2 separate regions of the Homo sapiens genome follow, and region 2 is linked to region 1. The links come from fine-mapping of genetic effects on gene expression. A gene starts in region 1. The other region holds a variant in brackets. All regions are shown on one strand. Distances are between the middles of the regions. Region 1 holds the start of SIRT6 (sirtuin 6). Region 2 overlaps CREB3L3 (cAMP responsive element binding protein 3 like 3).

Region 1 (5,256 bases):
TTTTTGTATTTTTAGTAGAGACAGGGATTCACCATATTGGCCAGGCTGGTCTGGAATTCTTGACCTTGTGATCCACCATGCCCAGCCAAGGGACACATCTTAAAGGGAGTACCCAGGACACATCCAGGAGGAAAGCAGATGGATGTGTTCTCATTCCCAGATGTGTGTGGCTCGCAGGGAAGCCTCTGGCAGCCTGGTAGGCCTTGCCTCGACTTCCCCTGCACAATCACAGACCTGAAGTCGGGGATGCCAGAGGCAGTGCTGATGCCGGCACCCGTGTGGAACACCACACTGGAAGACTGCCAGACCAGCCTCGCCAGTTCCCACACCTTCCGCTCCAGCTCCTCCGGGGGGTCGAAGATCTGTGGGGGGAGAGAGCAGACGGAGGGGTCAAAACAGTTCCCCCAAGTGGCAAGGCCACGCACGAGCCACAGACTGAGCTGTCCCTGTCTTGCCTGAGGGAGGAAAATGGATTGGAAAAGGCAGCTTGTCCTCATGCCCCTCCTCTTCCTACAACCTTCCATGCCTCCCACCTGCCTTGTCAAAGCCCTAGCCCTTCCCACGGCCCACCAGGCCCTGCACTACCTCCCTTGCCCCCTCCCTGCCCTCTTCTCCTCCCTCTCCCTGCCTCACTCTGCTCCAGCCACACAGGTCTCCTCCTTGTTCCTCTATCACACCAGGCACAGTCCCGCCTCAGGGCCACACCCTTTAATGCTCTTCCCCCAGATACCCACATGGCTCCCTCCCTCACCTCCTGTAACTTGTGGCTTAGATGTCACTTCAGTGACAGTGATGCCTCCCTTGGCCAACTGGTTTCCATGCAACCCCTAGTCAGTCTCCCTTACTAGAAGGAGGGGTTTTTAATCTGTGTTGCTCCTGGCTGTGGCCTTAGTACCTAGAAAGTGCCTGAGCTACAGTAAGTGCTCTATAAATGTTGGTGGAATAAAGTGACTAACAGGCCGGGTATGGTGGCTCACGCCTATAATCCCAGCACTTTGGGAAGCCAAGGTGGGTGGATCACTTGAGATCAAGAGTTCAAGAGCAGACTGGCCAACATGGTGAAACCCCGCCTCTACTAAAAATACAAAAATTAGCCAGGCGTGGTGGCAGGTGCCTGTAGTCTCATCTACTCTACTCAGGAGGCTGAGGCAGGAGAATCGCTTGAACCTAGGAGGCGGAGGTTGCAGTGAGCCGAGATCGCGCCACTGCACTCCAGCCTGGGCGACAGAGAAACTCCATCTCAAAAATATAATAATAATAATAATAAAGTGACTAACAGCAGCAGTGAAGAGTGGGGCTTCTGGACGGGCGCACACCATCAGCGCTCATTAAATGCATGAGTCAGAATGCATGGGCCAGCCTTATGGAATGGGGCCATCTTCACCTCGTTTGCAGAAAGTTTGGAGATGGAGACCCAAAAGGGAAGTGACTTCCCCAAAGTCCCACAGTGCGTGGAGGGGGCAGCCGATCCCTCCACTTCCCCTCTGAGTGGCTGGAGGGATCTTTCTGGCACATTCTGTCCAGTCCCCTCGCCAGGGCAAAACCCTTCCCCATCACCCTCAGGATAAAGTGCCAACTCCCCAGCCTGGCATTTGAGCCCCGTCCTGGCCCGGCTCTGGAAACCTCCCAGGCCTAATCGTTCTCCAGGTGTGTTTATTCCCACCTCCCTTTGCGCCTGTCGTCCCCTCTTCCTGGAACTACATCCCCTCTCTCCCCGATCAGCCCCGACAGGGTGACCACAGAGTTGGGCGTGTTGGCGTCCCCCGGCGCGCAGGGGCGTCACTTCCCGCCCCTTCCTCACTGGGAAGTCCCTCCCATTGTCTAGCCTCAGTGCCCCCTGATATTCCCACAATGCCCCCCTGCCATCCGGCCGCTCCCAGCCCGCGGCCCTGGGGCGCGATGCTCGGGACCCTCAGACGCGCTCACCTCCGGGAGGCCGCACTTGCCCTTGTCCGCGTACGGCGACAGCCCCGCCGCGTAATTCACCGACATCCTCGACTGCCCCACGGGAACAATAAAGTTTCCCTTGTTGAGGCCGCTTCCGCCGGAAGCGGGGCGGGGCGGGGAAGAAGGAGGAACCGCGTTCCAGTCCTGCGCACCCGGCCTCCCACGGCAAGGCGCATGCGCCTCTTGCTGACGCCGCAGGCGACATGTTATCTGCTGTCAGAAGGAAGCCTGCCTCTTTGCATGCAGGTGTTTGCGGGGCTTGGGAAGGGGCTCCCCGATGACCCGGGCGGGAAATTGGGGCGGCCGCCTACGTGAGAGTTCTCCAGTCACCTCTAAAATGCGGGACACAGGCTATCCATGTCCCCACAACCCCTTTTACGGATTAGTAAATTCCGTAAGGACAGAGCCGGACAGCAGGGACCCCAGCCTAAGGGTTTTGAATGCCACGCAGAGTTACCTGAATATCTCATTTGTGTGTGTGTGTGTGTGTGTGTGTGTGTGTGTGACGGAGCCTCGCTCTGTTGCCCAGGCTGGAGTGCAGTGGCGCAATCTCGGTTCACTGCAACCTCCGCCTCTTGGGTTCAAGCGATTCTCCTGCCTCAGCCTCCCTAGTAGCTGGGATTACAGGCGCCCGCCACCACACCCAGCAAATTTTTGTATTTTTTAGTAGAGACGGGGTTTCTCCATGTTGGTCAGGCTGGTCCCGAACTCCTGACCTCAGGTGATCTGACCGCCTCGGCCTCCCAAAGTGCTGGGATTACAGGCGTGAGCCACTGCGTCCGGCCAAGTTATCTGAGTATCATCCAACTGGAGGTTCTGCATTCTGCAGGACAGGTCCTGCTCAAGGTCAATGGGGCTGGTGGCCTGGAGGACTCATTTAAGAATCATGTGTTGAGTACCTACTTTGTACTGGGCACACTGGAGAGCAAAGGTGGTACCATCTATGCCCTGGTGGCTGCGGGTGGACACAAACATGTGACCAGGTAATGGTGACATGGTGTGGTTGGGGTGCAATGGGTGATGCAGAGGGCACAGGGCAGTGAGGGGGCTCACAGGAGGCACCTGACCCAGGCTGGGGGCATCCGGGAGGGCTTCCTGGAGGAGGGGATGTTGCAGCAAAGATCTAAAAAGTGAGTGAGCCGGGCGCAGTGGCTCACACCTGTAATCCCAGCACTTTGGGAGGCCAAGGCAGGTGGATCACCTGAGATTGGGAGTTCGAGACCACCCTGACCAACATGGAGAAACCCCGTCTCTACTAAAAATACAAAATTAGCTGGGTGTGGTGGCCTGTAATCGCAGCTGCTCGGGAGGCTGAGGCAGGAGAATTGCTTGAACCCAGGAGGCGGAGATTGCGGTGAGCCGGAGATCGCGCCATTGCACTCCAGCCTGGGCAACAAGCATGAAACTCCGTCTCAAAAATAAATAAATAAATAAATAAAGAGTGCATGAGTCAGGTAGAGCCGGTTGGGGTGACATGAAGTACAGAAAGAATGTTCCTGGTGGGGGGAACAGCAAGTGCAAAGGCTGAGAAAGAGGAAGAGCATGGCTCCTTCCAGAAACTGAAATCAGTCCAGTGATGATAGGGAAGATCGTGGGTGTCTTCCCGCCAGAGCCAGTTGGCCAACAGGCAGTCCGCTGCCAGCCTGTCTCCTCCCTCGGCTCATCCCCGGCCCCCTGGGGCGGCCGCCTGCTCAGAGCCGATCAGGTGTCAGAGTGGAGCGGCTGGAGCTGCTCGTGGCCCAGCTGGGAGTGGGTAACCGGAGCCGGCAGTGGGCACTGTGGCCGGGAGCTCGGGGCACTGGAGCTGCAGGAGGTAGGGGAGGAAGGAGGTGGGAGAGGCCCAGGACGGAGGATCCCCTTATGGCCCCAGGCCCCTGAGCCCTTGTATGTGGGAGAAAGAAGCCGTGCTGAGTCCTAGCCAGGCTGCGGAGCTACCCAGGTACCCTGACACACACATGCACTCGTTCACCCACGCACTTCCCACTTGCCGGCCTGTGCCCTGCCTAGCTTCCTCCAAGGCAGGTGCTCAACATCCCACCCGGCCATCAGGCCCTTCTTATTTACCATCACCTCTTCCAGCAAGCAGCTTCCTAAATTTAGCAGGCGTTTCTCCCTCCCCCAAGCCCACGGATTGTCTTCTCCCAAGCAGCCTGTGAACTCCTCTGTTGGGTGTCTTATTACCCCCTGCTTTGGGTGTGATTGAATCCTCCAGTCAGAGGTAGAAGAAAAAAGGGTAGGTAGTGAGTGAATGGGCACCGGTGGAGGGGTAGATGAATGGATGGGTGGGTGGATGGATGGGGGGCGAATAGGTGGATTGGTGGTTTGGTAGATGGGTGAATGGGTAGATGTATGGATGGATGGGTGGATGGATGAATGGGTGGGTGATTGGGCAAATGGATGGAGGGATGGATAAGTGGATGGATGGATGGATGGAAGGATCCATGGATGGACTGGTGGGTGGGTGGATGGATGCACTGGTGGGTGGGTGGGTGGATGGATGGATTGGTGGTTGGGTGGGTGGATGGAGGGATGGATAAGTGGATGGATGAGTGGATGGGTGGGTGGGTGGATGGGTGGATGGGTGTGTGATTGGGTGGGCAGATGGGTGGATGGATGGATGCTTGGGCAGATGGATGGATGGGTGGTTGGGTGGATGGATGAAGGGATGGATAAGTGGATGGATGGGTGGATGAGTGGATGGATGAATGGTGGGAGTTGGTAGGTGTTTGGGTGGGTGGATGGATGTGTGGGTGAAATCTGATTAAAGGGTGATGAAGAACCATGAGAACATGAATTGGGTGGGTGGGTTTGTGGGTGGTGGCCAGTGGGTGGTTATACAGTGCTTAGGTGGGAGGATGGATGTCCAGGTGAGTGCATAGGTGGTAAATGCGTGGAAGGGTGGCTTGGAGAATTCACGAGTAGATAGGTGGACAGGTAGAGGCCATGCCAACCCCTACTCCTTGGTAAGAGGCAAATACAGATTCTCCATCACAGAAATCCCTTTCACACATAGGGCCTCACAGTCACACCCCTCAAAAAACACACCCCCTCAAGATAGGCCTGCCTGACCTCCGTGCCTGCCCATGCGGAACGTAGAACAGGCCCAGGTGGACAGAAGTGCACGTGTGCACACGCCCCACACTCAACGTCACACACATGCATGCAGCCATTGCCCCAGACCTCCACCCACTATGGGTGAATTGCTGTCACATGGAGGTTCCCTCTGACTATGTAGCAAACATGCCTCTGTGCTGAGAGCCGTCAGCCCTGGCTTCAGTCCCCAGGGAGCCCCTGACTGTTGAAAAGGAC
Region 2 (5,476 bases), 26 kb before region 1:
TCTAGCTAGGGCCTCTCTCCAGCACTTTTTATTTTATTTTATTTTATTTTTATTTTTATTTTTTGAGATGGAGTCTCCCTCTGTCACCCAGGCTAGAGTGCAATGGCACGATCTCAGCTCACTGCAACTTCCACCTCCTGGGTTCAAGAGATCTTCCTGCCTCAGCCTCCCAAGTAGTTGGGATTACAGGTGTGCACCACCACGCCCGGCTAATTTTTGTACTTTTCCTAGAGACAGGGTTTCACCATGTTGGCTAGGCTGGTCTCAAACTCCTGACTTCAGGTGAGCTGCCCGCCTCGGCTTCCCAGAGTGCTGGGATTACAGATGTGAGCCACCGTGCCTGCCATACTTTTTTGTTTTTTGAAACAAGGTCTTGCTCTGTGACCCAGGGTGGAGTGCAGTGGGGTGGCCATAGCTCACTGCAGCCTCAACCTCCTGGGTTCAAGGGATCCTCCTACCTCAGCCTCCCCAGTAGCTGGGACGACAAGTGTGTGCCACCGCAGCCAGCTAATTTTTTTAAATTATTTGCAGTAGGGATAGGGGTCTCTATGTTGCGCAGGCTGGTCTTGAACTCCTGGGCTCAAGTGATCCTCCTGCCCCGGCCTCCCAAAGTGCTGAGATTACAGGCATGAGCCACCACATCCAGCCTCTCCAGCACTTTAAGAGAAATTGGCTCTCACACTGTGGAATTCTCTCTATCAGCCTCAAAGTCCAGATTTGGAAAGGGAGTCTCAGCGAGGGGCAGCAGCTGGCCCAACCCGGAGGCAGAGCGGCAACTGAACTCTAGCCGGAAAGAGCCAGGGTTATGTGCACATGGGAGGTGGGGAGGACAGGGGCTGTATGTGACCCTCACATCTGTTCCTCGCGCCCCAGATGGCTTCTGCTGCCTGCTCCATGGACCCCATCGACAGCTTTGAGCTCCTGGATCTCCTGTTTGACCGGCAGGACGGCATCCTGAGACACGTGGAGCTGGGCGAGGGCTGGGGTCACGTCAAGGACCAGGTGAGGAGTCCACTGCAGTTGCCCCGGGACCACAGAGCTCCAGGCGGGCCAACTGAGGCCCCACGAAGGTGCTAGACCCGCCAGAGCCCAGCCAGAGCTCTGCTCAGCTCTACGATGCACTAATGGGTCACGGTGCTTGATTTTAGCCAAGCACATCATTTAGCGGGTAGCATCAGCTCCTTCTTACAGGTGGGGAATGGAGGCCCAGAGCAGGGTGGAAACTCATCCAAAGTCACACAGCAATTTGGAGTTAGGTTCAAACTCAAACTTGGGGCATCTCCCTGGCTAGGTTCGGTTCTCTTCTCCTTCCTCTCCTTCCTTTCTCTCTTTCTTCTTCTTTTTTTTTTTTTTGAAGGAGTCTCGCTCTGTTGCCCAGGCTGGAGTGCAGTGGTGCCATCTCGGCTCACTGCAACCTCTGCCTCCCGGGTTCAAGCGATTCTCTTGCCTCAGCCTCCCAAGTAGCTGGGATTACAGGCGCCCGCCACTGCACCTGGCTAATTTTTGTATTTTTAGTAGAGATGGGTTTCACTATCCTGGCCAGGCTGGTCTTGAACTCCTGACCTTGTGATCCACCCACCTCAGCCTCCCAAAGTGCTGAGATTACAGGCGTGTGCCACCGCGCCCGGCCCACTTTCTTTTTTTTCTTTCTTTTCTCTCTCTTTTTCTCTTTCCTTCCTTCCTTCCTTCCTTTTTTCCTTCCTTTCTCCCTCTTTCTTTTACTCTCTTTTTTTTTTTTTGAGATAGAGTTTCACTCTTGTCACCCAGGCTGGAGCGCAATGGCGCGATCTTGGCTCACTGCAACCTCCGCATCCCAGGTTCAAGTGATTCTCCTACCTCAACTTCCCGAGTAGCTGGGATTACAGGCAGCCGCCACCACGCTCGGCTAATTTCTTGTGTTTTTAGTAGAGATGGGGTTTCACCATGTTGGCCAGGCTGGTCTTGAACTTCTGACCTCGGGTGATCCACCTGCCTTGGCCTCCCAAAGTGCTGGGATTATAGGCGTGAGCCACCACACCCGGCCCTTTTTTCTCTTTCTTTCTCTCTCTCTCTCGTTTCTCTCTCTCTCTCTCTCTCTCTCTCTCTCTCTCTCTCCCCCCCTCTCTCTCTGTCTCTCTCTCTCTCCCCCTCCCTCCCTTCCTCCCTTCCTCCCTTCCTTCCTCTCTCTCTCTCTTTCTTAGACAGAGTTTCGCTGTTGTTTTGCCCAGGCTGGAGTGCAATGGTGTGATCTTGGCATACCGCAACCCCCACCTCCCAGGTTCAAGTGATTCTCCTGCCTCAGCTTCCCGAGTAGCTGAGATTACAGGCATGTGCCACCATGCCTGGCTAATTTTGAATTTTTAGTAGAGACGGGGTTTCTCCCTGTTGGTCAGGCTGGTCTCAAACTCCCGACCTCAGGTGATCTGCCCGCCTTGGCCTCCCAAAGTGCTGGGATTACAGGCCTGAGCCACCGTGCCTGGCTCTTTTGTTTTTCTTTTTTTCTTTTTTTTTTTTTTTTGAGATGGAGTCTTGCTCTGTTGCCTAGGGTGGAGTGCGGTGGCGTGATCTCGGCTCACTGCAGCCTCCGTCTTACGGGTTCAGAATCTCCTTCCTCAGACTCCCGAGTAGCTGGGACTACAGATGCCCGCCACCACGCCCAGCTACTTTTTGTATTTTTAGAAGAAATGGGGTTTCATCATGTTGGCCAGGCGGATCTCGAACTCCTGACCTCAAGTGATTCGCCCTCCTCGGCCTCCCAAAGTGCTGGGATTACAGGCAGGAGCCACTGCACCTGGCACTGGCTGGGATTTTTATGCTATGTTACTGCGTTTGAGCCTCAGCAGCCCCGGGAGGAAGAAGCAGTAACTCATCTTGGAGAAGGGAAGGACACCTAAGGCCCAAAGAGGGTCACTGGTTTCCCTGGGGCCACACACTAATCTAAAAAGAGTGAGCACTTCCTAATTCCTACTACCCCTCCCTGTCCACCCCAGCAGGTCCTGCCAAACCCCGACTCTGACGACTTCCTCAGCTCCATCCTGGGCTCTGGAGACTCACTGCCCAGCTCCCCACTCTGGTCCCCCGAAGGCAGTGATAGTGGCATCTCCGAAGACCTCCCCTCCGACCCCCAGGACACCCCTCCACGCAGCGGACCAGCCACCTCCCCCGCCGGCTGCCATCCTGCCCAGCCTGGCAAGGGGCCCTGCCTCTCCTATCATCCTGGCAACTCTTGCTCCACCACAACCCCAGGGCCAGTGATCCAAGTACCTGAAGCCTCTGTGACCATAGACCTGGGTGAGTCCTGCTGTGTCTCTGCCCACCGCCCTCACCTTGTTCCAGGGCCCTTCCTGTAAGTGAGGAAATGGAGGCCCA[G/C]AGAGGGCTGGCATCTTGTCCAAGGTCACACAGCAATTTGGAGCTGGGCCCAGACTCAAACTCAGGACACGTGTCTCCCTTGGCTAGGTGTTTCCATGCTTTCACGTGGATGCTATTGGGAGCCCATTTTCCAGATCGTGAAACAGTCCTGTCAGGTTGAGCAATGAGCTAAAACCACAGAGCTAGGATGCAACCCCGGCAGGTGGCTCAGGCACCAGGCATGGTGCTGACAAGCACAGCCCAAAGTCAGGGTCTTGCCTTCTACGTGTCTGTACCCCGTGCCTGGTTCCTAGTAGATTTTTTTTTATTTTTTATTTATTTTTATTTTTTGAGACAGAGTTTCACTCTGTCACCCAGGCTGGAGTAAAGTGGCGCGATCTCGGCTCACTGCAACCTCTGCCTTCCAGGTTCAAGCAATTCACCTGCCTCAGCCTCCTGAGTAGCTGGGATCACAAGCATATGCCACCATGCCCAGCTAATATTTATTTTTTAGTAGAGACGAGGTTTCACCATGTTGGCCAGGCTGGTCTTGAACTCCTGAGCTCAGGTGATCTGCCCACCTCAGCCTCCCAAAGTGCTGAGATTACAGGTGTGAGCCGCTCCACCCAGCCTGTAGATGCTCAATAAAAGTGCATGAGGTTACCAGGTCCTAGGTTCCAGGGTGCTCCTCCTAGACGTGGGGAACAGCAGATCAGTAATGATTTACTCTATTGATTAAGCATTCCCGGCGGGCCAGGCAGAGCCCTGGCTGGAGATACTTGGCCTCTGGGTGGCCTTTGTCCCTTGACCCTTGCTATGAGCTCTTCTTGGTCCCATTGGAGAGTTGACAAAACTGAGGCTCAGGCCCGGAGCGGTGACTCATGCCTGTAATCCCAGCACTTTGGGAGGCTGAGGCAGGCGGATCACTTGAGGTTAGGACTTCAAGACCAGCCTGGCCAACATGGTGAAACCCCATCTCTACTAAAAATACAAAATTAGCCGGGCATGGTGGGGGCCACCTGTAGTCCCAGCTACTCAGGAGCCTGAGGCAGGAGAATCACCTGAACCCGGGAGGCGGAGGTTGCAGTGAGCTGAGATCATGCCACTGCACTCCATCCTGGCTGACAGAGCCAGACTCTGTCTCGAAAAAAAGCCAAAAACAAAAAATGCTGGGCACAGTGGTTCACGCCTGTAATCCCAGCACTTTGGGAGGCCGAAGCGAGCGGATCACGAGGTCAAGAGATCGAGACCATCCTGGCCAACATGGTGAAACCTCTGTCTCTACTAAAAATACAAAAATTAGCTGGGTGTGGTGGCAGGCGCCTGTAGTCTCAGCTACTCGGGAGGCTAAGGCAGGAGAATCTCTTGAACCTGGGAGGTGGAGGTTGCGGTGAGCCAAGATTGCCACACTGCTCTCCAGCCTGGCGACAGAGCGAGACTCCGTCTCAAAAAAAAAAAAAAAAAAAAATCTGAGGCTCAGAGAGGTGAAGTCACTTACTCAAGGTCACACAGCCCTGCCCAACCAGGATTAGAACCAAGGGTTACCTGACCCAAAGTTTGTGTGCTGGGACAGCATGCCTACTGCATGCCGGCTACCAGGAGGGGACAACCAGAGGTGAATCAGACCTCGTCCCTGCCCCTTGGGTGAGATAACGCCTGGCTGGCTGCAAATCTAGCCTGTAATTCTGTGTGATAACAGCCACTCCCTTTTGAATCAGCCGGTGTCTCCTGACAATGTCCTGTGTCTTCCTCAGCCTTGTGGGACGGACAGAACCAAGCCCTGTTGAATTTGGGTCCCCATCTTTTTTTTTTTTTTGAGATGGAGTCTCGCTGTGTCACCCAGGCTGGAGGGCAGTGCCACATTCTCAGCTCACTGTAACGTCCACCACCCGGGTTCAAGTGATTCTCCTGCCTCAGCCTCCCGAGCAGCTGGGATTACAGGTGCACGCCACCAGGCCCGGCTAATTTTTGTATTTTTAATAGAGATGGGATTTCACCATGTTGGCCAGGCTGGTCTTGAACTCCTAACCTCAGATGATCCGCCTGCCTTGGCCTCCCAAAGTGCTGGGAATACAGGCGTGAGCCACCATGACTGGCTGGGTTCCCATCTTATAGCAGAGGGGAGACCGAGTCACTAGTGAGGGCTGCC

What was found. PIP is the estimated chance that this variant, and not a neighbour inherited with it, causes the effect.
Region 2: its variant is fine-mapped to the expression of SIRT6 in pancreas (GTEx, PIP 0.95).

Annotation. Positions count from the first base shown.
Region 1 is chr19:4,180,548-4,185,803 of GRCh38, forward strand. It overlaps SIRT6 (sirtuin 6), which reads right to left and starts at 2,016. Exons shown (of 8, transcript NM_016539.4): 1 at 1,927-2,016; 2 at 235-362. The coding sequence starts at 1,992. It overlaps ANKRD24 (ankyrin repeat domain 24), which reads left to right and starts at 2,142. Exons shown (of 22, transcript NM_001393985.1): 1 at 2,142-2,193. RefSeq lists enhancers at 1,990-2,079, 2,150-2,199.
Region 2 is chr19:4,154,026-4,159,501 of GRCh38, forward strand. It overlaps CREB3L3 (cAMP responsive element binding protein 3 like 3), which reads left to right. Exons shown (of 10, transcript NM_032607.3): 2 at 874-1,002; 3 at 2,970-3,270. Among named protein-coding and RNA genes, the nearest start is that of CREB3L3, 3.1 kb to the left of the region's middle. The variant G/C (reference allele first, on the strand shown) is at 3,349.